Linked DNA regions of Homo sapiens. The protein of the gene in region 1 interacts with the protein of each later gene in a pairwise test. Each region holds a gene or a part of one and is shown in the gene's direction. Other genes may lie near its edges. The genes, in order: LZTS1, TSGA10IP, DDX6, CEP83, ZMYND19, PLEKHA7 and PRPF18.

What was found.
Region 2: the proteins of LZTS1 (region 1) and TSGA10IP interact in binary tests that used the Homo sapiens proteins (3 or more experiments, as listed by UniProt).
Region 3: the proteins of LZTS1 (region 1) and DDX6 interact in binary tests that used the Homo sapiens proteins (3 or more experiments, as listed by UniProt).
Region 4: the proteins of LZTS1 (region 1) and CEP83 interact in binary tests that used the Homo sapiens proteins (3 or more experiments, as listed by UniProt).
Region 5: the proteins of LZTS1 (region 1) and ZMYND19 interact in binary tests that used the Homo sapiens proteins (3 or more experiments, as listed by UniProt).
Region 6: the proteins of LZTS1 (region 1) and PLEKHA7 interact in binary tests that used the Homo sapiens proteins (3 or more experiments, as listed by UniProt).
Region 7: the proteins of LZTS1 (region 1) and PRPF18 interact in binary tests that used the Homo sapiens proteins (3 or more experiments, as listed by UniProt).

The regions. Positions count from the first base shown.
Region 1 is NC_000008.11:20,255,464-20,258,963, reverse strand, and holds part of LZTS1 (leucine zipper putative tumor suppressor 1), read left to right. Parts: intron 1-3,500. UniProt on the Homo sapiens protein: Involved in the regulation of cell growth. May stabilize the active CDC2-cyclin B1 complex and thereby contribute to the regulation of the cell cycle and the prevention of uncontrolled cell proliferation. May act as a tumor suppressor.
Region 2 is NC_000011.10:65,948,480-65,951,979, forward strand, and holds part of TSGA10IP (testis-specific protein 10-interacting protein), read left to right. Parts: intron 1-3,500.
Region 3 is NC_000011.10:118,784,665-118,788,164, reverse strand, and holds part of DDX6 (probable ATP-dependent RNA helicase DDX6), read left to right. Parts: intron 1-1,646; 5' UTR 1,647-1,913; coding exon 1,914-2,113; intron 2,114-3,500.
Region 4 is NC_000012.12:94,457,068-94,461,355, reverse strand, and holds the start of CEP83 (centrosomal protein of 83 kDa), read left to right. Parts: upstream 1-1,488; 5' UTR 1,489-1,799; intron 1,800-4,288. UniProt on the Homo sapiens protein: Component of the distal appendage region of the centriole involved in the initiation of primary cilium assembly.
Region 5 is NC_000009.12:137,584,547-137,587,512, reverse strand, and holds part of ZMYND19 (zinc finger MYND domain-containing protein 19), read left to right. Parts: intron 1-405; coding exon 406-546; intron 547-2,966. UniProt on the Homo sapiens protein: May be involved as a regulatory molecule in GPR24/MCH-R1 signaling.
Region 6 is NC_000011.10:16,776,797-16,780,414, reverse strand, and holds the end of PLEKHA7 (pleckstrin homology domain-containing family A member 7), read left to right. Parts: intron 1-1,394; coding exon 1,395-1,417; 3' UTR 1,418-3,118; downstream 3,119-3,618. UniProt on the Homo sapiens protein: Required for zonula adherens biogenesis and maintenance. Acts via its interaction with CAMSAP3, which anchors microtubules at their minus-ends to zonula adherens, leading to the recruitment of KIFC3 kinesin to the junctional site.
Region 7 is NC_000010.11:13,589,965-13,593,464, forward strand, and holds part of PRPF18 (pre-mRNA-splicing factor 18), read left to right. Parts: intron 1-1,803; exon of another isoform or gene 1,804-1,903; coding exon of another isoform or gene 1,904-1,924; intron 1,925-3,500.

The DNA.
Region 1 (3,500 bases):
GGATGAAAACACATTTTGTCAGTGTCAAGTTTATATCAGCAGAGCCACCCTGTGCTCCTAAGTCACACCTCGCAGGAATGGGAGGCAGAAAGGTTGCATTTAGAAGGAAAGGATTAGCTCTGGAAAGTGAGTTTGGACATTGAGGCTCCCCAGATCCATAGGGATGATGGATGTTGGCAAGGACAATGGTCACAATATAAGTAACAGATACCGATAACACTGCCTAGCATTTATTGAGTGCCCACTATGTACTAAGTATTGAGTAAATGTTCCAGAGCTGTTATCTTATGGTGGTATTTCTTAAATTTCTCATAACGATCCTATGAGGTAGGCTGCTTCACTGTATTTCCTCGAGTATACAAAGCCATCAATTCAATAAAAGCTTTTCACATCAAAACATATTAAACTTACACAACGAAGTTTTGTTGTGTCATGCTTTTCCTAACAAAATATAGAACATATTCATAACATAACCTCTTTATTCTTCAGGATGATAACGCAAGTTTGAATCGAAGCCTAGATATTCAGAGTCACAGAGTCTCCATGCACAACTGCTAATTGTAAAAAATATATATATAATAAAATTAAAATTAAAAAACAGAGTCAGAAAGTTTCTGGCTCCCTTTCAGCTGTGCCCATGCAGTTCTCCATGTCCCACCTGGGATTTCTTTAGCCCCTTTAGGATGGATGGTATAATTTAGAGCTCAGCGAAGAACAGAGGCTCCTTCCACATCTCCTGTTTTATTAAACTTGTGGCTTTCCCCTTCTTAATTGGATATCTGTCTTTTGACTAAGAAATACTTCACAGTGCATGACAATCACCAACCTTTCCTAGCTTTGAAAATTGTGTGATCTAAACTTAGAGATTTGCCTGAATCTGCACATGTGCTGGCACTGACATCCCAATTTCTCCTGTCTGGTGACTGACAAGGTTGTTATTGTTTAAGCATTGATTATTAGATGCTATCCTATTACTTTAAAAAAAAAATGTGCCCAGTCCGGTGGCTCACGCCTATAATCCCGGCACTTTGGGAGGCCTAGGCAGGTGGATCACCTGAGGTCAGGAGTTCGAGACCAGCCTGGCCAACATGGGAAAACCCCATCTCTACTAAAAATACAAAGATTAGCCAGCCAGTCATGGTGGTGCTCACCTGTAATCCCAGCTATGTGGGAGACTGAGGTGGGAGAATCATTTGAACCCGCGAGGTGGAGGTTGCAGTGAGCCAAGATCATGCCACTGCACTCCAGCCTGGGCAACAGAGTGAGACTCTATCTCAAAAAAAAAAAAAAAAAAAGTTTAAGGGTGTCTTAGAATTAGTTTGTAACACTGAAGGTTAAAGATATTAAACAGTTTACCTTCCATGTCATAGCTGGCAGGTGATGTAACTAGAATGCACACCAAGTCGGCTGGGTACTTCTCAACATTAAGGCTGTAATGACTTTCTCCTTCTTTCTCTCTTGAATCTTCTCAATGAGGCCTTCCTTCCACCATTCCTCCAAAACTGCTCTTGTCAAGGTTACCAAAGATCTCCACATGGCCAAATGCATTGACTAATTCTCAATTGTTATCTTACTTTCAGCAGCACTTGACAACTTTTTTTTTTGAGACAGGAACTCAGTCTGTTGCCCAGGCTGGAGTGCAGTGGCGTGATCTCAGCTCACTGCAACCTCCGCCTCCTGGGTTCAAGCTATTCTCATGCCTCAGCTTCCTCAGTAGCTGGGACTACAGGTGCGTGCCACCATGCCCAATTTGCCTGGCTAATTTTTTATATTTTTAGTAGAGACGGGGTTCCACCATGTTAGCCAGGCTGGTTTCAAACCCTTGACCTCAAGTGATCTGCCCACCTTGGCCTCCCAAAGTGCTGGGATTACAGGCTTGAGCCATTGCGCCTGGCCATTTGACACCATTTTTAGGAAACAATTTCTTGACTTGGCTTTCTTAGGTCTTCTATATCGACATCACCCTGAAAACCTTCTCTGCTGCTCTTTTTCACTTCTCCTAACCTGCCTGACCTCCAGATGCCGAGTGCTCCATGTTAACCATCCTCAGGCCTCTCTTGTCTTTCTGCATCCGCTCTTTGGTGACCCCATCTAGTCTCATAGCCACTTCCACACTCCCAGCTCTGACAAGTGCATCTGCAGCTCCCAGCAGCTGCCCACTCACCCTCCTGCCTACTCTCCATCACTCCCTGGATGCCAAATAGGCTTTGCAAACTGAATGTCTTCAACCAAACTCCTCTCTTTGGCATTGTCCCTGACTCCTCTCTTTCGCTCACTCCCTACATCTGATCCTTTAGCAAGTCCTGTCAGCTCAACCTCAAAATTACATTGAAAACTGTTTTTTAGAGACAGGGTCTCACTGTGTTGCCCAGGCTGGTCTTGAACTCCTGGCCTCAAGTGATCCTCCTGCCTTGGCCTCCCAAAATGCTGGGATTACAGACGTGAGCCACCACCACATCTAAATCCACAACTACCACCCTAGACTATTAGCCTGTAATTGGCCACCACTTCTATCCCCCGTCTCCTCAATAAGCTTCTTCCCCACCCGGAAGCCAGAGTGACCTTCCCCAACCTAAGGCAGATCAAGGTGTCAGCTGCTTAAAGCCATCCAGGGGCTCCTTGTCTCAACCCAAGCAAAGCCAGAGCTCTTTGAGCTGCACAGCCTCCTTGTTCTCTGATGTCTGCTGGCTCCTGGTTTCTGTTTCTCCTTCCCAGCCTTGCTAATTGTTCTCCAGCCAGGCTGCTTCCCATGTGGGTCTCACACAGCCAAGCCCCCTCTGCCTCAGGGACTCAGGCTTTTATACTTGGGGTTTCTTCTGGTACCCCTCTCCCCCTAGATTTTCATATGACTTGCACCTCATTTTCTTTTCTTCTTCTTCTTTTTTTTTTTTTTTTTTTTTTTTGAGTCAGGCCCAGGCTGGAGTGCAGTGGCACAATTGTGGCTCACTGCAGCCTTGATCCCCGGGGCTCAGACGATTCTCCCACCTCACCCTCCCAAGTAGCTGGGATTACAGGTGTGCACCACTACGCCCGGCTAATTTTTGTATTTTTAGTAGAAATGGGGTTTCTCTAAGTTGCACAGGCTGGTCTCGAACTCCTGGACTCAAGCAATCTGCCCACCTCAGCCTCCCAGAGTGCTGGGATTACAGGTGTGAACCATCATGCCTGGCTGCCCCCTCATTTTCTTGAAGCCTTTTAAAATGCTACCCTAACAAAAGAAGACCTTCCTGCATAAAACAGCCACCTCCCAGAATTCTGTTCTGTCCTCTCTGCTCCAGTTTCCCCCGCAGCACTGGTACCCGCAGCACTGGTACCCGCAGCACTGGTACCACTTGCTATAGTATACATTGGTTTGCTTCTGGCCTCTCCACACCACTGTAACCCTAAGTTCCAGGAATGCAGGGACTGTGACTGTTTTAGTCACTTGCTGGGTCCCGAGTGTTTAGAGTAGAGGCTTGCATGAAGTGGGCTCCCAGTGAATGTTTGTTGAATTATCAGAC
Region 2 (3,500 bases), on another chromosome or scaffold:
TTATCTACTCATGGGCCCTTAGGATATAACTATTAAAAGACTTGGAATTAGCTGGGCATGGTGACACGTGCTTGTAGTCCCAGCTACTCAGGAGGCTGAGGTAGGAGGATCTCTTGAGTTCAGGAGATCAAGACTGCAGTGAGCTATGATCCCACCATTGCATTCAGCATGGGCAACAGAGTGAGACACTGTCTCTAAAAAAGAAGTTAAGGGGCCGGGCGTGGTGGCTCACGCCTATAATCCTAGCACTTTGGGAGGCCAAGGCGTGTGGATTGTCTGAGCTCAAGAGTTCGAGACCAGCCTGGGCAACATGGCGAAACCCTGTCTCTACTGAAAATATAAAAAATTATCCAAGTATGGTGGTGTGTGCCTGGAGTCCCAGCTACTCAGGAGGCTGAGACATGAGAATCACTTGAACCTGGGAGGCGGAGGTTGCAGTGAGCTGAGATTGCAGCACTGCACTCCAGCCTGGGTGACAGAGTGAGACTCTGTCTCAAACGAACAAACAAACGAACAAAAAACCCAGCCTGGTCAACATAGCTAGACCCCTGTCTCTACAAAGGAAAAAAAAAAGATTAGCCTGGCTTGGTGGAAAGTGTCTGTAGCCCCAGCTACTCCAGAGGCTGAGTCAGGAGGATCTCTTGAGCCCAGGAGATCAAGGCTGCAGTGAGCCATGATGACATCACTGAATTTTAGTCTGGACAACAGAGCGAGCCTCTGTTTCTAAAGCAAAGGAGACAGTGGGAGCTGAAGGGGAGACTGGAGGCTGTGAGGAGACTGTTGGCAACACTGAGGTGAGGAACCAAGAGGCCCTGTGGATGGAGGGAGGGGATCCATTTAAGAGACACTTAGAGGCTGGTTCAATAGGCCATGGTGACTGGTGACAGGAGGCATGTGAGGGCAGGGGAGAGTTCATTCAGCATTCTTATAGCACCCCACAATTTTTTTTTTTTTTGAGATGGAGTCTCACTCTGTTGCCCAGGCTGGAGTGCAGTGGCACAGTCTTGGCTCACTGCAACCTCCGACTCCCAGGTTCAAGTGATTCTCCTGCCTCAGCCTCCCAAGTAGCTGGGACTACAGGAGCCCACCACCACGCCTGGCTAATTTTTGTATTTTTAGTACAGACGGGGTTTTACTATGTTGGCCAGGCTGGTCTTGAACTCCTGACCTCGTGATCTGCCCGCCTCGGCCTCCCAAAGTGCTGGGATTATAGGCATGAGCCACTGCGCCCAGCCACAATTCTTTTTTTAAAATTTATTTTATGTAATTGATAAATAAAAATTGTATTTATGGTGTACAACATGAGGTTTTGAAATATGTTTATATTGTTGAAGGTCTAAATCAAACTAATTAACATATGCATTACCTCGGTTTTTTTTTTTTTTTTTTTTTGAGACAGAGTCTTGCTCTGTTCCCAGGCTGGAGTGCTGTGGTGTGATCTCAGTTCACTGCAACCTCCGTCTCCAGGGTTCAAGCAATTCTCATGCCTCAGCATCCCAAATGGCTGGGATTACCGGTGCCTGCCACCACACCTGGCTAATTTTTGTATTTTTAATAGAGATGGGGTTTCACCATATTGGCCAGGCTGGTTTCGAACTCCAGACCTCATGATCTGCCCGCCTCAGCCTCCCAAAGTGCGGGGATCACAGGCGTGAGCCACCACTCCCGGTCTTACTTGATTTTTTTTTTTGTAGTGAGAACACTTAAAATCTACTCTTTTATTGATTTTTAAGTATACAATACATTGCTTTTAACTACAGACACCAGATCATACAATAGATCTCTTGAACTTATTTCTCCTCTCTAACTGAAATTTCTTATCCTTTGACCAACATCTCCCTTCTTCTCCCCACAAACCCAGTGAGGACTTGGTAACCACCATTCTACTCTCTGCTTCTATGAGTTTGACTTTATTTATTTATTTATTTATTTAGAGACAGGGTCTTGCTGTGTTGCCCAGGCTGCAGTGCAGTGGCACAATCATGGCTCACTGCATCCTTGACTTCCAGGGCTCAAGTGATCCTCCCACTTCAGCCTCCTGAGCTCTAGGACTGCAGTCATGAGCCACCATGCCTGGCTAATTTTTTTTTTTTTTTCTGAGATGGAGTCTTGTCTCACTGTTGCCCAGGCTGGAGTGCAGTGGCGCGATCTCAGCTCACTGCAAGCTCCGCCTCCCGGGTTCACGCCATTCTCCTGCCTCAGCCTCCTGAGTAGCTGGGACTACAGGCACCCGCCACCACACCCAGCTAAGTTTTTGTATTTTTAGTAGAGATGGGGTTTCACTGTGTTAGCCAGGATGGTCTCGCTATCCTGACCTCGTGATCCACCCGCCTCAGCCTCCCAAGGTGCTGGGATTACAGGCGTGAGCCACCACACCTGGCTGCTGGCTAATTTTTAAAATTTTGGTAGAGATGGGGTCCCATTATGCTGAGTTTGACTTTTTTAAGATTTGGCACATAAGGGAGATTATATGGTATTTGTTTTCCTGTGCCTGGCTTATTTCACTTAACATAGTGTCCTCCAGGTTTATGCATGTTGTTGCAAATGATGGGATTTTCTTCTTTTTAAGGCTGAAGAATGCCATTGTGTATATATACCACCTTTTCTTTATCCATTCTTCTGTTGATGGAATCTTAGGTTGATCTCATATCTTTGCTACTGTGAATATTCCTGCAATGAACATAGGAGTACAGCTACCTCTTCAACATACTAATTTCATTTCCTTTGAATATGTACCCAGAAGTGGGTTGCTGGATCACATAGTAGTTCTACTTGTAATTTTTTGGGGAACCTTGATATTGTTTTCTATAATGACTGTACTAATTTATATTCCCACCAACAGTAAACAGAGATTCCCTTTTCTCCACATCATCACCAACCCTTATCTTTCATCATTTTGGTAATAGTCATTCTAACAGGCGTGAGGTGATATCTTATTATCATTTTATTTTGCATTTCCCAGATGATTAGTGATTAGTGATGAAAAAGACATTTGTATGTCTTTTTTTGAGAAATGTCTATTTGGGTTATTTGCTTATTTTATTATTATTATTATTATTATTATTATTATTATTTTGAGATGGAGTCTCGCTCTGTCGCCCAGGCTAGAGTGCAGTGCCACGATCATAGCTCACTGCAGCTTTGAATTCCTGGGCACAAGTGACCCTCTCACCTCAGCCTCCTGAGTAGCTGGGATTACAGGTGCATGCCACCACATCCAGCTGATTTATTTTTTAACTTTTTATTTGTAGAGATAGGTGTCTTGCTATGTGGCCCAGGCTGGTCTCAACCCCTGGCTTCAGGTGATCCTGCTGCCTCCACCTCCCAAAGTGTTGAGATTACAGGTGTGAGTCACCATGCCCTGACTCTTTGCCTTTTTTTTTTTTTTGAGATGGAGCCTCACTTCGTCACCCAGGATGGAGTGCAGTGGCATAATCTTGGCTCACTGCAACCTCCCCCTCCCAGGTTCAAGTGATTCTCTTGCCTCAGCCTCCTGAGTA
Region 3 (3,500 bases), on another chromosome or scaffold:
AGTTAATTTTTGTATTTTAGTGGAACGGAGTTTCACCGTGTTGGTCAGGTGGTCTTGAACTCCTGACCTCAGGTGATCCACCAGTCTTGGCCTCCCAAAGTGTTGGGATTACAGGCGTGAGCTACCGTGCCCCTCCTACCAGTTCTTTTTTTTTTTTTTAAACTATTAATTAGCTTTACTACTCTGGATTTCTTGGAAAGTTTTCTTAAAATTACTAGTGTGTTTAGTCTTCCGCGGATTTTTTTTTAAACAGGAATTTTCCTGTTTTTTTAAATTTAAAATTAGAATAGTTATTAGCTAAGTTTGTTATAAATGAATAAAATTATTAGAGTCATCTTGGTTTTGTCAATTTCAAAATAAAAATTCATTTATACAAAATTTGTGTATATCATCCGTCCTTGGGATCATTACTTGCTGGATGCATTATGGCAGAAATACACTATTCTCTTGACTGCTTCATTTATTGTTTTAAAGGACAAAAAGGAAAAAAGAAAATACATTTTTCTTCTTAAAGTTTTTTGTTGTTTTTTGAGACAAGGTCTCTGTCACCTGGCTCACTGCAGCCTCCGTCTGCCAGGTTCAAGCGATTCTCGTGCTTCAGCCTCCCAAGTAGCTGGGACTCCATTACAGGTGTGCACCACCATGCCCGGCTAAATTTTGTTTTTTGTTTTTTTTTTCTTGTTTGTTTTTGTTTTTGAGACGGAGTCTGGCTCTGTCGCTGAGGCTGGAGTGCAGTGGCACAATCTTGGCTCACTGCAACCTCCGCCTCCTGGGTTCAAGCAGTTCTCTGCCTCAGCCTCCCAAGTAGCTGGAATTACAGGCGCTCGCCACCACGCCTGGCTAATTTTTGTATTTTTAGTAGAGACAGGGTTTCACCATCTTGGCCAGGCTGATCCTGAACTCCTGACCTCATGATCCACCTTCCTCGGCCTCCTAAAGTGCTGGGATTACAGGCATGAGCCACTGCACCCGGCCTAAATTTTGTATTTTTAGTAGAGATGGGGTTTCGCTATGTTGTCCAGGCTGGTCTCTAACTCCTGACCTCAAGAGATCGCCCGCATTGGCCTCTCAAAGTGCTGCGATTACAGGCCTGAGCCACCAGCACCCAGCCCATAAAGTTTAATAGTTGAAATTTGTAAGGGCACAAAGGTGTTTTTTTCTGGAAGTGTGAAGTTCAAGTCAAAAGCTCACTTAAATCTATAAGGACTCTCGGTTGCTATTACAAGTAGAAGAAAATTAATGAATTGTCTTGTTTAAATTGTGTGATACTTCAGTGAGTTGTAATGCAATTAAGTATAATGAATCACTGACTTTTAGAGATGTCAGAGACTTAGAGAATTCATGGGGAGGAAACTGAAGAGAAGAGATTATCATTGACGAGTAGTGCTAATTTACTAGTCTCTTTCTACTTAATCTCTGGATTGCTTTGAATTAACAATTTTAAATGTTTGATATTGGCCTCATTGTGTTTTTGAGATAGTTCAAAGTTGTGTCTATCCTAGCTTGGCTCGTGATTTGGTCTAAGTGTAGCTGTATTATTAATTCTTTAATATAAAAGATGAGAATTCTTTTAAAGGGGTTCTTTTAAAAGGGAAACAAAGTTTTTCTGTTGTGTTTGCTAATTTAATTTTGTTTGTTTGTTTCAGATTGACGTGAGTGAATTCAGATATAACTCAAGCTTGTTAGAGGGCTTTTTAAAAATAAAAAGTTGATTCCGTGCAAGAGAGCAAGTTACTGCTGCTTACCGTTCAGAGACTTACAGGTGCTTGCCTGCATTGCAATAAAGGACTCATTTATTGAGCAAGACTTATATTTATCTCTTCATTTTGGAGAGCCTAATAAACTGTTATTACAGTTTCTCTACTGACTTTCAAAAGTTTTGAAGTTTGAAAGACCTTTGCAATTAAAACAGCATGAGCACGGCCAGAACAGAGAACCCTGTTATAATGGGTCTGTCCAGTCAAAATGGTCAGCTGAGAGGCCCTGTGAAACCCACTGGTGGCCCTGGAGGAGGGGGCACACAGACACAGCAACAGATGAACCAGCTGAAAAACACCAACACAATCAATAATGGCACTCAGCAGCAAGCACAGAGTATGACCACCACTATTAAGTAAGTGTTAGAGTAAATTATTAATAAACACTTGTGGGGAACCAAGATTTGTGTTACTTTGGTGTTGACTATTAATACTTATGCCTTAATTTAACCATTTTGATTCCAAATAGAGGACAGATGACTTTGTTTTATGGCCAGTAGGTATTTGCAATAGAATAATATATTTCTGCCATAATTTGTTCAGCAAGTAGTCATCCTGAGGTCAGATGATACACACAAATTTTGTATAAATGGTTTTTGGAAACATTTCTGGCTTTCATAATTAGTGTAAAAGTTATTAGCTTAGTTTGTTGTAAATGAATAAAATTATTAGTCATCTCGTTTTTGTCAGTATAGTTTTTTTACGACTGCACCTTACCCTAGTTAAACAGCAGATAAAGCCAACTTTATGTATTAAATTTAAAGACTCAGTCTGAGTCTTTAGAGTCTTTAAAGACTTGCCCAGCCTTCTGAACTCCAAGCATTATTCACTCAGAAAATTTTCTCGTAACTTTTTTTAGCTTATGGAACTTAGCTTTTTTACTTTAAAAAAAAAAAAAAGTTGGCTGGTTGAGGTGACTCATGCCTGTAATCCCTGTACTTTGGGGAGGCCAATGTGGGAGGATCACTTGAGTCCAGGAGTTTGAGACCAGCCTAGGCAACATAATGAGACTCTGTCTCTACCCAAAAAAAAAATTTTTAATTTTTTTCCTCCTTTTACATATAAAAAGGGAACTAAGAATTTTGAACTCACAGAACACAGTTCTGAACAGTCTCAGAAACCTTTTGTTAACCTTAAAATTGAAGAGCCTCCTCTTACTAGAGGATATTTTTTCTTTTAAAGCTGAAAGTATGTAGGCTATTTGTTACTTTTAAGTGCATAGTTTAAATTACAATATTTGAATGGTAACCATCACTTTAAAGATTCAGTTATAGGAAATTAACATTTAAGATTCTTGACTCCAGTTGATGTTTGGCTTTTGTTAAGAACTTGCCATATAGGTCCGGGTGCAGTGGCACACGCCTGTAGTCCAAGCACATTGGGAGGCCAAGGTGGGCGGATCACCTGAGGTCGGGAGTTCGAGACCAGCCTGACAAACATGGAGAAACCTTGTCTCTACTAAAAATAAACCCCGTCTCTACTAAAAGTACAAAATTAGCTGGGCGTGGTGGCACATGCCCATAATGCTACTTGGGAGGCTGAGGCAGGAGAATCACTTAAACCCGGGAGGCGGAGTTGCAGTGAGCCGAGATTGCACCATTGCACTCCAGCTTGGGCAACAAGAGCGAAACTCCATCTCAAAAAAAAAAAAGGCCAGGTGCGGTAGCTCACGCCTTTAATCCCAGCACTTTGGGAGGCTGAGGCAGGTAGATCACGAGGTCAAAAGTTTGAGGCCAGCCTGAC
Region 4 (4,288 bases), on another chromosome or scaffold:
CTCCTGACCTCAGGTGATCCACCTGCCTTGGCCTCCCAGCGTGCTGGGATTACAGGCGTGAGCCACCGCCATTTCCCGAATGATCTTTTTCCTACTGACCAATAATTTGTCATGTATAGTTTACTGGCTACCACAGAGATTTCTGGAGTTGTCTGGCTCCAGCGTTTAAAAGTAATGGTTTTGGGCAACTCTGTGAAATGGAGATAACAATTGCACCTACCTTACAGAAATGTTAGAGTTAAATAAGATAACCTGAAAAAGTACTCCAGTACTTGCCACACAAATGCTCAGCAAATGTGAGCTACTGTTATTATACTAAACACGCACACATACATGAGAATTTCTGGATTCTCTATTCTATCTCCCATGTCTCATCTATGTAATCCATCCAGCAACATTCCATTACCAACTCGCTGTCCTTTTTTTCCCTCCTCTTAAGAGACACGGTCCTTTCTAATGGCCCGTTTTCCCTCATTTCAACAACAACAAAATCACCTCTCAGTTGTCCAATAATAACTACAGCCTGAAAATCATAATCTTGGGGGTAAAAATAAGCTGTACTTCACAAAGCAGTGAGAATCAAAGCCCAACCAAGGCACTGAACAAACGCTGGGGATGGGAAGGTGTCTGTTTCTTCCAACACGTATTTTGAAAGGCTGACCGCCTACTTTGTTTCAGACTTTGGATGATCATGGAAGTTCTCAAAAGCTAGCAACTCCTCTTCCAACTATTGTTTACAGCCTTAAGACAAGTAGTTCCCCATGTGACCCCAGGTGGGCCCTGAACTTGGGATAACCAGGACAGGAGACTTGGAGCAGGAGGTGCGGGGGCGAGGAGGGCTCTCTCCCGGGCGATTGGTCCTAACCCGAGGTTCCCTCGTGGCAAGCTGAGCCGACTCCCCACTCGTGGGCTGATGCCCGAGGCAGACGCGGCAGGCAGGCGGCTTCGGGAGCGCATATCTGCACCCATGGGGACGATGGCAGGCTGGCGAAGGGAGAGAGGTGGCGGCAGGACTACCATTTGAGGCTCTCAAATGGTGTGGGGAAGAGGGAAGGAGAGGCGCGAAAAGGAGGAAAACCCCTGGAGACGCTGTGTCGGGCGGAGGCTAGGGAGACCGGCTTCGCGCTCCAACGACGCGCATCACTCAGACTCCAAGGCAAGTGCCCGGGGCTAGATTTTCCGTCCCCTGGGGCTCTGGGGATCTCTGAGTCCATCCCAGGGCCCTCCAGGAACGCCTTCGGGAGCGCAGCCCGGCCCCGCCGCTGCCGCTGTCACCCGTGGCCGCTCCCGCCTCGGTTCGTTTGTCTCCTCCCTCTAACGGCTCCGGCAGCAACCGGCGTCGGTGGCGTGGGTGACGTCGGCGTGGGGGGTGGGACTTCCTGCTTCGCGTGCCGCTGGGCCAAGGGACAGAGCCCGCTCCTCCAGGCTGGTGGGGCGGTGCGATGAGGCGGCTTCTGGGCCATACGTCAGCACGTGGGGTGGCGCCGCACCCCTGAGGATCCCGGTCCACGCGGAGGAGTGGGGCTTTTCACCGCCGCCGCCGCCGCCCTCGGACCTCTCCCGGGATACTTCACATTTCCCTAGGGACGGGAGCCCGAGGGGTCCGTTCGGCCCTCTTCCTCTCGCTGGGCCGACACCCCGCTGTAGGACCGTAACCCTTAGTCCCAATGCCTCCGTAAGCGGAGTTGAGTGGGTGCCTGTGGTTGGAGCTGTGGAGGTGTCCCCGGTGGCGAGCGCGGCCAGAACTGCGGTCACTTAAGTTTTCCGTGTGCGGGTTGCAAGGAGCGTGCGTGCGTCTGGTATGTAACCTCTCTTTCTGGGGACGGTGTCTTGTTTGTATTTTGGAATACTCATTTTGTCCCTCCACAAACTGCCCTTGAATCCTTTTTTTATTTTCCTGTTAAAGTAGTGGAAGCTCGTGCTAGAAAAGTAGGCAGAGAGACGCACGTGAAACTCTTCATGGAGCTTTTGGATGCACTCTGGCTTGGTGGTTGTGTAGCCAGTTTGGTAATTGGCCAGACGTTTAAGTACCTCCAGCTTAATTTACGATGAAAAAGCTATGCTACCATTTTCCTTGGCTTTGAAGACAATTTGAATGAACAGTGATGTCGACTGTCATTACTGAGATAAACACCTAAAATATGTTAGCATATGCTGGGTTTAAATACTTTGGTTAATCCTCAGTGTCCAACTTTTGACCATAATCAATGGGCATTTTGCTCTTAAGAATATCCACTGCTAAGTATTTGTAAAGCCTTTAGTTAGCTGAAATGAGGAAGCTCTTTCAAATCTTACAGATCTCTAGGATAAGGAAAGACTTGTCTGAATTTCGTGTATATGATATATACTTCATAATCTGTTCAGACTTTAAGCAGCTCTAAAACAGAGTGGGTTGTTAAAGCAGTGCTTCTGTTACCAAGCAACATGTCTGTAAACAAGTCTGACATTTAACTAAAACACAATTAAAGGTATCTATCCTACAGTTACCTGGATTTAGAATTTTCCATATTTATGAATTTAGCCTGTAAGTGGTTAGAATTAATACTCACCTTTTGTATTGAGGTTTGATTTCAAACTCAGTTTGTTCAGAATTGTTAGAATGCTTTATTTATTTATTTATGACTGAGTCTCACTCTGTCGCCCAGGCTGGAGTGCAGTAGCGCGATCTCGGCTCACTGCAACCTCCGCCTCCTGGGTTCAAGCGATTCTCCTGCCTCAGCCTCCCGAGTAGCTGGGATTACAGGTGCGTGCCACCATGCCCGGCTAATTTTTTTATTTTAGTAGAGATGGGGTTTCACCATGTTGGCCAGGCTGGTCTCAAACTCCCGACCTCAGGTGATCCGCCCACCTCGGCCTCCCAAAGTGCTGGGATTACAGGTGTGAGCCACCGCACCAGGCCAGAATGCTTTAAATTATAAGTGTCACACAGGACTCTCCTGAGAGTTGCAAATGGTTTTGAGTTGTCCTTTGGTTATTTAGGACAGAGTATGCTGGGTATTCCCCTTACTTTGAGTGTTTTCTTTCCAGATCAGATGAAGTGCGCGGACTGTATTTAGAACATTCTCAAATAATAGTGAAATACAATTTAGAATTCCATGCAGCACTGGGAGAATGAAACACTGATTATTCACAGGTAGTTTTTTTTTTTTTCTTTTTTTGAGACAGAGTTTCATTCTTGTCGCTCAGGCTGGAGTGCAGTGGTGGGATCTCAGCTCACTGCAACTTCCGCCTCCCAGTTTCAAGTGATTCTCTCCTCTCAGCCTCCCGAGTAGCTGGGGTTACAGGTGCATGCCACCATGCCCTGCTAATTTTTGTATTTTTAGTAGAGATGGGGTTTCACCATATTGCCCAGGCTGGTCACGAACTCCTGACTTCAGGCGATCTGCCCACCTTGACCTCCCAAAGTGCTGGGATTACAGGTGTGAGCCAGCGTGCCTGGCCTATTCACAGGTAGTTTTTAATCCTTGGTTTACCAGTCACCTCACTGTCTCCTCTTATTGAACCCTTAATGATAAAATTTTTATGGCAAGTTGTTAGTTTTTAGAGCACTTTTTGAATGATCTTTTCAATCAATAACCTTTCAAGTAAGCAAGTATGTGAGAAAATTTGAGACATGATGAGACTAAATGACTTCTTTGAAATCTATTAATAATGGGAATTGGAACTTGAAGTTTAATGTTCTTTATGTCAGATACCCTTATGTATTGCTAAAATCCATGGACTTAATTTTAGTTCTCTCCTCCTTTTTTCTATATGCTGATGTTGAAGTAATGAAATATTCAAAAGTTGGGCAAGATGGAGGAGACAAATCAAGAATGACTCGTATAATCCTTAGTAATCAGAAATCAGCATTATGTCATGGGATGTTCTAATTCAAGAAGCTTAGAGTGAAATCTTAACAGAAAGATTAGTGAATTTTAGTGAATTGTCAGAATTTCCCCACCCCCAGGTACTGTCTCTTTGCCTAAAAGTAGATGAGCTTGCTTTTAATTTTGTCATACATATTAGGTTCCATAAGTAAATTGCCCACATTGTTTAACCTATGTGCTTTTAGGGAATGTGTGTAAATCTGTGTAAAAAACTTCCTTTTAACCCAAGTTCATGTTTCTTGACTTAAGGTGAATTATTTGAAATCCTCTCACCTTGCCTTTTCAAGTGTATGTTCTTTATGGAAAAGGTGTCTCTGCCCAGATTGGTTTCTTCACTATCCCCTAAACCTGCTCTGTACTTTATCCTTTCCATATTAGTCTGCATATCTTTCTATCCCCCGTGACCTGATCTTATTCCC
Region 5 (2,966 bases), on another chromosome or scaffold:
TGGGAGCTTGCCCAGGACCGGCAGCCTCTGGAGGGACGGTGGTTGCTCCCCTTGCTGGGTTTTGCCGAGCCCCCCCGGTGTGCATGGTAGGGACCACTCAGATGGGGAGCTGTCTCGAGGCCATCTGCTTAGGTGGTTTTGCGTTCCAGCTTTGGCTGTCTGTGCTCTGAAGTCCAGGGGCCGGGTCCTCCCTGTGTCCCTGTCCTGTTTGGGCCACAGATCAGGTGCTTGGGTTTCTCTCAGCAGCTTCCGCCTGAGGTACCCTCATCCAAAGGACCAGGGGCCCGATCAGATCACATGGCTGACATTTCTTCCTGGAAGGACTTTGGTACCTGACCAGAAATGTCTGTGAGGGTGGGAGGCAGCGATGCAGGGTTAGATGCAGGGTTTGCTGTCTGTTTCTAGGGAGCGGCACCGGGGGGGCGTGGCCCCGGGCTTCCAGGTGGTGCACCTCAACGCTGTGACCGTGGACAATCGCCTGGACAACCTGCAACTGGTGCCGTGGGGCTGGCGGCCCAAGGCTGAAGAGACCTCCAGCAAGCAGAGGTGGGTCTTCTCAGGGCCTGGCGATGCCAGCAGAGGCGCCTTTTGAGGAGGGCCACCGCCAAAGCTCTTGTTTCCAAGAGGGTCTCCTGTTCCTCCTCTGAGCCCTGATGCTTCTGTGTATTTTGGGAATTTCATTGTTTTTCCCCAAAGCGTGGAATCCTCCTTTTCTTCATGGGAGCGGGAAGGATCTTGATGGTGTGTGTTTTTGCATTGCTCCTCTTATAATTGGCTCTGGGAACCTCCCTTTAGCTGGCATGACAGTGGGGAGAAGGGCTGCCTGCTCCAGGGCAGGGCCAGCGTCGGGACTCGGTGTGAGCAGGGCTTCTGCCCCACACCCCTGGGAGGCATCAGCCTTCTCTCCTCACCTCAGGATTCCTTCCTTCTCTGCTCACCTCAGGATTCCTTCCTTCTCTCACCTCAGGATTCCTTCCTTCTCTCACCTCAGGATTCCTTCCTTCTCTCACCTCGGGATTCCTTCCTTCTCTCACCTCGGGATTCCTTCCTTCTCTCCTCACCTCGGGATTCCTTCCTTCTCTGCTCACGTCAGGATTCCTTCCTTCTCTCCTCACCTCAGGATTCCTTCCTTCTCTGCTCACCTCAGGATTCCTTCCTTCTCTGCTCACCTCAGGATTCCTTCCTTCTCTGCTCACCTCAGGATTCCTTCCTTCTCTGCTCACCTCAGGATTCCTTCCTTCTCTCCTCACCTCAGGATTCTTTTCTGTGCACACAGATGGGTCTTTTTGTTGTGTTCTTTTGCTAAACAGTTTTCCTTAAGCAAAGGTTTAAAGCGGAGAATGGTTCAGGGCTCAGCCCTCGGCCCCCGACCTGCCTGTGATCCTGAAAGCAGTGCTTTGCATGGGCTTCCCACCTGGGAGGGCGGTTCCTGCTGGCCCTAGAACCAGCCAGTCTGTGAACTTCATGGAGCCCTTGGGAAGAGCCAAGGGACCAGCAGGATAGGGGTTGGGAGCCCAGTTGAGCCAGGGAGTCCCCAGCCACACACGCTTCACTGACATGTTCCCCTGGCGCCCTGGGGCTTTTGGGCACGTCCTCAAGCCTCTGGGCAGCCTTTCCTGGTGCAGGCAGTGCGAACTGCCCTAGCAGATGGTTGTCAGCAACGCTGGTAAGGTTTAGTGTTTCGGGCTTGGTGATGGTTGGTGGCTGTGGGTAGAATCTTTGCAGTTGTCACCTCAGAGTCATGCCAGAGCCCTGGGCAGCCGAGGTGGAAACAGTGGGAGCACCTGACACACTGGTTGGTGATGTGGGGACAGTCCCCAGGCCTCCAAAATGCCACTCCCAAACTGCTGTTCCTGCCACCCTGGAGGGAGTCCTACAAATCCCCCCCCATCCCTTCCTCACTGGGCCTCTCAGGACGAAGGCAGAGCCTGAAGTGTCTTTCGTTCTTGTTGGGCTGGTGTTTTTTTTTCCCTGCTCTGTTTATTTCATTAAATTAATTAATTTTACGGATGGGTCTCACTATGTTGCCCAGGCTGTTCTTGAACTCCTGGCTTCAGGGAATCCTCTTGCCTCAGCATTTTTTTTTTTTTTTTTTTTTGAGACGGAGTCTGGCTCTGTTGCCTAGGCTGGAGTAGCGCGACCTTGGCTCGCTGTAGCTTCTGCCTGCCCAGTTCAAGCAATTCTGCCCCAGTCTTCCTAGTAGCTGGGGTTACAGGTGCCCACCACCACGCCTGGCTAATTTTTGTATTTTTAGTAGAGGTGGGATTTTGCCATGTTGGCCAGGCTGGTCTTGAACTCCTGACCTCAGGTGATCCGCCTGCCTCAGCCTCCCAAAGTGCTGGGATTACAGGCGTGAGCCACCACGCCTGGCCCCGCTTCAGCCTCTTGAGTAGCTGGGATTACGGGTGTGCACCACCACGCCCGGTCCTTGCTCTAATATTAGAGTTTTGACCTTCCTCATACTGCTTGTGAGTGAAGCCAGGCCTCTTACGATTGTTGAATGGGGTTTTTATTCTTTCGGGGATTATGTTAGTTGGAACTTTGGGTTGCAAGAAACAGAAACAAAGGTCAATTTGGCTGAAACAAAAATAGGGTACATTTTGGTATCCTGACTGAAATGTGGAGAGCCAGGGATGCTGCTGCCTCCAGCTCTGCGCCCCCACTCCCGGCTCCTCTCTGGGAGGCGGCATGGGCACTACCTAGCACTTGCGGACTGAAGCAGGCACCCTGTTCTAGTGGTGTCTGGGGAAGCCCTGGGATGAACTGTAGTTAGCTTGCTTAGAATCACTTTTCTACATGAAAAGGGAAGGGGAAGGGGAAGGCGTGCTTGGCAGGCAGAGCAGCATCTGTAGCATCTCCTCCTGCGTTGTCCCACATTGATACATGCTCAGTGTTGATGCTGGGATGGGCCCTTCCCAACTCCGCAAGTTCGCCCGCTGCTCACCACTCCACCTGGCAATGCCTTC
Region 6 (3,618 bases), on another chromosome or scaffold:
CACTGGGCACTTTAAGAGGGAGAGAAAGGGAAGCCCAGGGCAATGTGAAATTGGCCCTCAGCCAGGCAGAAAGCTCTGGCACCAACCCTACCAAGTTCTCCCCATGTGGGCATCTAGTGATGAGAGGCAGTGTGGGATGAGGAGGGAGCCCTGAAACAGGAGGCTGGCATCTGGTCCAGTCTCAAGTGAGTTCTTGGCCTGGGCCTGTTGCTTTTGAGCCCAGCGGTTCACCTGGACAGGGGAAGGTCAGACTACCAGTCTGGGCAGTCCTTACCCTGACATCCCATCCCACTATCATTTTGCAGGGCTTTCCCCTCTCCTTCCTTTACGTATACTTGTGGTTAACATTGTTGAGTGCCTGCTGTGTGCCAGGCATTGTGCTAAGTATCTCTTTCGATCCACACAACAACCCTATGAAGATATTCCCCCCCCCCTCCCCGTTTTAGAGATGAAAAAACAAAAGCTCAGAGGCCTTGAGGGATATGCGCAAGGAATCGCAGCTTGTTAAGTGCTGGGGTTTGAACCCCTTTGATGTGAGTTCAGAGCCTTTGTTCCCCATCACCACTCATGGGTTCATCTGGGCCGCCCCGAGCAGCTCTAGGTGTTTGGAGAAAGAAGTGAAAGGAGGGAGAGAGTATTTGTGCTGCAGGGAGCGAAGCATGATTTTTTGGCAGGTGTCTATCCTGGGTGCTCCCCGTGCCTCACAGCAGAGTCAGCAGGTCCCCGCCAGCCTGAGCATGAGAGGAAGAGGTCAGCCTCCTTGGGCCAGGCTCTGAGGAGGTGTGGAGTAGAGGCCCCGTGGTTGAGGAGCCATAGGGAAGTGCTCTAGCCACGCCCATTGTGAAGGCCACATTTGAGGGTGTGGCTTTCTCCTAGAGATCTGAGCACAGTAACAGCGCTCAGTCACAGAGAGGCAGGAGAGAGGTTCTGTTCCTCCTGGGTTTTGGTGCCCCCATGGCTGTAAGATTGGCCTATTATACTCTTTGGAGTACTGCATTTCTTCTTACTCTCAAAGCATCCTTGTTAAGAAGTGGGTATGACCACCATGTTTTTTAGGTTAGAAAAACAAGGCCCACAGAGGCCAAGAGCGCTACCCACATTGAAAGAATGAAGGGCAGGGCCAGACTGCACCTTTATTAGAGTCTTTGCCCTGTCGGGATGGGGACCCAATTTAGGGGCCAGCATGTGTCTAGCAGTGGAATAGGGGTGCAGGGAGGGTGGGGCAAGAGCCCCATGTGTCCTGGAAGCTGAGGGTCCCCCAGCAGCGGCCGCATTGCCAGAGCCCCCTGCTCTGCTGCTCTGCCTGTCCGCCTATCTGCCATTCCATCATGTGTGTGCAGACGTGCCTGCTCCCTGGATGCCAGCCTCTCACTGTCTCCTGTGCTTTTTGCCAGCCCAGGCAGTGACTGACCCGTGACCCAGCATGCAAAGAAGCCTGGAGCCAGGGGCCCAGTGGAACCAGCTTCCTCCAAGGAGATGACCTTTCTGCCCCCAAGGAAACCCCTTCCAGCTGAGCAGGGAATCCGGCCGGAGGAAGGAGCAGCTTACCGACTGCGGGTGTTCACCACAGGCCAGGCCCTAATATGCACCCACTAGTTTAGCTCAGACTCCTCTCTACATATGAATGGCAAAGGCACTTTTGATATACACTGTAAAATACACTGTATTTTAGAATCGGAATCTATTTTCTAATGTTCCCCTCAAGGGCTGAGTGGCAGGAAGGTTGAGGATGCAGGACTTTGCAGCTGCACGTACAGATTCAGGTACTTCTGGGTGACAGGTGTTGTGGGGGCAGGAAGGGCGGGGCAAGCCGAGGCTAGTCCAACTTCCAATGACCTCAGGAGAAAGTGAGATTTAAAGAGGTGTTCCCAGTAGACTCCAGCAAGAGGCTGGTTGGCGTGCTGTCTGGGAGAAGAGGGGCCCTTGGCTGCAGAGATCAGCTGTCCCTGACCTGATGACCAGCTCTGTGTGAAACTCCACGAGGATCACACGTGGAGCCCAAGTCTGTGCCTTGCCCCTTGGGTTTGGCTTAGGGGCAACAGTGTGTTCAAGAGGACTGGGGCCCACAACCTGCCCCCAGGCTTCCTCCAGCAAAAGGCTCTTGTCAGAAAGAAAAAAGCAGTTTGCTATCTTTTTTTTTTTTTGAGATGGAGTTTCACTCTTGTTGCCCAGGCTGGAGTGCAATGGCACGATCTCGGTTCACTGCAACCTCTGCCTCCTGGGTTCAAGTGATTCTCCTGCCTCAGCCTCCCAAGTAGCTAGGATTACAGGCATGTGCCACCACGCCCGGCTAATTTTGTATTTTTAGTAGAGACGGGGGTTTCTTCATGTTGGTGAGGTTGGTCTCGAACTCCTGACCTCAGGTGATTCATCCGCTTCAGCATCCCAAAGTGTTGGGATTACAGCCGTGAGCCACCACGCCCAGCCTGCTTTCATTTTTAACAGTACACATTGAAATACAGAAAAGGTGAGAGGAAGCAACTTTCATTGTATCGTAGCAATAAACTCCACACTGGGTGACATCTACCTAGAAATCCCTTCCCTCTAACCAGGCCATGATGGGAACCTTTGCTGCCTGCCCTTGGAGAACCCCGGATTGGCTTCCCTGGGACTCAGGTCTGGTGGCAGGAGGGCAGCAGTGTGCCCCCACCATCCCTCATGGCCTGCCGCCAGCAGGGCCATAATGGCAGGACTTTGATTTGACTTCCAGCCCCACATGAGGAGGGGGGCTACCAAGCCAGGTGCAGTGTTTGTGGCCCTTTATTTAAGTTGTTTTCTTATATTATTCTGCATATAAACAATGACGTTTAAATGGAAAAAACAACAACAACGAAAACCTCCATTGGGTGGAGCCACACTTTAAATGAAAATTTCTCTTTGACTATGCTCAGAAAAAAAAATAGAATTTTGAATATATCTAGCAGTTGTTGTCTATTTTTAACTAACTCCATATGCTGCCAGTATCGACTTCATGACATTTGCCAAAATAAAATTTTATTTTTGCCTTTATAAGATTTTCTTGGAAAAAATGAAATGAATATTTTGCAAGAAAAAGTTAATTTAAAAATGTAATGGTTTGCAAAAAAAATGTGATGTACAGATTAAAATATTAACCTGATACGTTTCCTGTTTCTTGCTGGCTATAGTCTCTGGTGAGTGGCCTGTGTACGTTTGTTTCCATTTCTTTGGAAAATCCCCACTGTCAGCTCTCGGCCCTGCTTCTATTTACCTATGAAAAGTTTCTTCTGGTGACGATTCCTTGACATTTGATTGACTGTAGAGGCCTGGATTGAGGAGGCCTGTGCTTCTGGGCCCCTGGCTAGGCTTCCACAGTTGCTCAAGGCAACCCCCTACCCCATCCCAGTCAAAGAGCCACCAGGCTGTGGACTCCCTTGTGGGGCTGGTTTGTCAGACAGACTGCAGTCCAATTCAAGACAGCGCAGGGAACGCTGTGGGCCCCCTTCCAACCCACATGCTGCCGGCTCGCTCCTGGGAGGCAGCTTAGTGACGGACCATTGCAAACTGGATTTGTATTTAATTCATTTTGACTTGTGATGTATGCTCACAACAGAAGGCAAGAAGCCAGTTCCATTGAGGGGTGTGTATATTTCTGAGCTG
Region 7 (3,500 bases), on another chromosome or scaffold:
GTGGATGTTAGGAAGGGCCAGGGTGTTGAAATCTAAGTGCTTTAAAGGGAAAAGTGAATCACAAAATATTCAGCCCACCCTCAAGGTTCACAACATGAATATTTGCATAATCATGTTCTTCGTCATTGAAATGCACCAATCTACAAAAATGATCATTAAAAAAAAAACTTTAGATTCTTCAGGGTCATTTATAATTTATAATATATAAACTTTTCCTGGGTGTCTTTCATTTTTTAATTTGGTAGTTGATTGAATTATCACATAATTCCAGCCAGAAGATAAGATTGATTTTTTCAATCACAGAGCAGTTCAGACCAACAAAGGGCGTACATGAAATGGGAATTAAAATACTGACATTCGGCCGGGCGCGGTGGCTCACGCCTGTAATCCCAGCACTTTGGGAGCCTGGGGTGGGCAGATCACGAGATTGAGACCATCCTGGCTAACACGGTGAAACCCCATCTCTACTGAAAATACAAAAAAAAAAAATATATATATATATATATATTAGCTGGGCATGGTGGCAGGTGCCTGTAGTCCCAGCTACTCAGGAGGCTGAGGCAGGAGAATGGCGTGAACCCGGGAGGCGGGGCTTGCAGTGAGCTGATATTGTGCCACTGCACTGCAGCCTGGGCGACAGAGCGAGACTCCATCTCAAAAAAAAAAAAAAAAAATACTGACATTCATAGTTTATATTAGCAGTAATGTTAGGCATCATGCAATATGTGTTTTCTAACTTGTACAACAAGTTGCCATTGTTCCCATTTACAGATGAGGAAACTGGAAGCTAAGAGAAGTTACATGACTATAGGATTATGCAGCTAGCAAGAGATAGAGCCTGGATTTGAACCCTGGTCTGTTCCTACTTCAGAGCCTGATCTGTTAACCTGTACAGATAGAATGGATATTTATTCACCTTACAAACATAGAACTAGTTTTGATAGGGCTAATGTAACAAAGCACTGGAAAATTATTAGACTAACATGATTTATATTTTTCAAAGTGCTATATGCTATCTGATTTGAGCTTTACAACGGTTAATTAGTGCACAAGGCAATGCTGTTTTCATGGATGATGAAATTGAGGCTTAGAGGGTTACACGATGTTCTCATATTCCTGTGGCCAGCCGGGATAGATCTCAAGTCTTAGACCAACTTGAGGGTGAGTGCTCTTGCATGATGTAAGGGAACATACACAACTAGGCGTCTTTTCTGTTGTATCCATGGGAAGACAGTCTTTAGATCTGCAGCTCTATCATTTCATGCAGAATAGTTGCTTTATATTTTTCATCTTTCTGCATCACAGTGTCTGTCAGTAACTTACAGACTTTTTCACTGCCCCGTTCATAGCAATACATTTTTATATATTGATCTGATATGTATGTGAAAAAAGTTTTATGAAATAATTCTTACAACCACAAATGATTTTATCATGTTTTATTCAGTCCTCCTTTTTTGTTATCAGTTATTTAATTAGGTTCTTCTTAAGAAATGTAGAACACCAATTTGTGAGGATAAATTCCATGAGTCGGGGCAAACACAGATCGCAGGTAGTCCTGGAGCTTAGGAATAGCTTTGATTTTTGGTAAAATTTGTGACTCCACAGCTTTCTGATCAATCTTGTGCTGCTCTGTAATCTTGTATTTATCTTTTTCTGTGCTGAAGATCTCAGCTTCCTGGTGTCTGGGCTTCTGCAGCTGCTGCTGCTTGAATAAGCATCAGTGGGATGTTTTGGGATTTTTACATCGCTGATAACAATTTTGGTTGAGGTGGCAATGACAGATTTCTGGTGTTTTCTTCATAGAGGAACTCGATTGAGGACCAGAGGTCCAGTCACAAGTAACAAGCCACTAGCCAGGTGCTTCAGGAAGACCGCCCTCTTGCCTCTGTGGAATCCAGTGAGGATGATCAGAACGTTCCCCGGGGTAATGCTGGTTCGCAGTTTTCTCACGTGTCAACTGAGGGTTTTTTTTTTTTTTTGCCATGGCTCAACAGCTTTTGAGGCACATCTTCAGTAGGAAAATATCTAGGCATTTTATGAAGTTTAACCACCTGGGTACTACCATTCTTGTCACCACCAACTGGTTTTGTAACAGTTGCAAGAACCTTCTTTTTCTTTTCAACCTCGTACTTAGCGGCTGAGTACTTCCTCTTATACACAGCTTTTCTGGAATACATAGCACATCGGGAATACCTGCCAATTCCTCTGACAAGGACAGGGTTGTGCTGCAATGGGGCTTCCCCTTCTTGGGCTTCTTAGCCTTGAGGTGACCCTTTTTCACCTTGTCACCAGCCTCAGCCTTCTTGGCTTTGGGTTTCTTCTCTTTAGTATCCGGCTTCTCAACTTTTTCACCCACCATCTTACAAGATGGGGAAGAGCAAGTCCCTTTGTTTTAATTTTTTAGAAAACACGGGTCAGGGATCAGTAGATTGTTGTCATTACCGCATCTGTAGCTGGAAAACAGTTGTCTGTGTGGTGTTGCTCTTGCAGAAAGAAGAGCCACCTCATCTTTGGTCATTTCAAGTGGTGTCCCAGCTTTTTGTGGTTAATCTGTGATAGTTGAAATAATCAGTACTTAGCTTGTGAGTGCCTCTTTCTCAAATTGCAGAGAAGTGACTAAGATATCCTCTTACCACCTGTCCTAAAGTGCCCTGCCTGGTGTAACCACCCTGAGGTAAATGTGTCTGCATTGCTAGAACACCAGTGTTTTGGAGCCTAGAATTGGTGAGTTTTCATTTAATGCAAAACCTCGTGTGGAAAACCAGGCTGCTCTAGAAACTCAATGGGGAGTAATTAGTAGTTTTACTAGTTGTAGTTATGAGGATGAGCTATGTGCAGAATTTTAGCTTTTTTTCCTTCCAGTATTTACTGCATCTTTCCTATATGCAAGATACTATGCTGTGCTGCAGTAACAATGCTACAATAATCAAAACAGCATAGCGCTGGCATAAAGAGCAACAGCTAACACCACTAGAGTATAACAGAGCACCCAGAACGGAGCCACCCTTACACAATTATTGATTTTTGACAAATACACTAAAACCAAATGGAAGGAAAGATATTTTCAGTAAATGATGCTGAACAACTGGATATCCATACGGAAATAATAAGCAACAACCCCTACCCCACATTATACAAAACATTCTGAAATGAAGGACCAATGGAAGGAATGGCAGGAACCAACATGGGAGACATTGGAAAATAAAATTAGTAAGGAAAACTGTATACTAGTTCTAATACATTGGAAAATCTAAGTGAAGTAAATGGCTAAAAAGTACAAAAAAATACAAGAAATAGAAAATCTAAGCAAACCAGTAAGTGAGGAAGACATAAGAAGAATCTGTCAGCTAAGAGGAGAAAGTTACTGAAGGAAGGAAGGAATGAGCAGTTAAATCGAAGACTGGATGAGATCAGTCAGAGAAGTCTCTTTGGATTTGTATCTTAGACATTATTTATGACCCCAAGGAGGTTTTTTCAGTGAAACAGAATGGATGTCCACA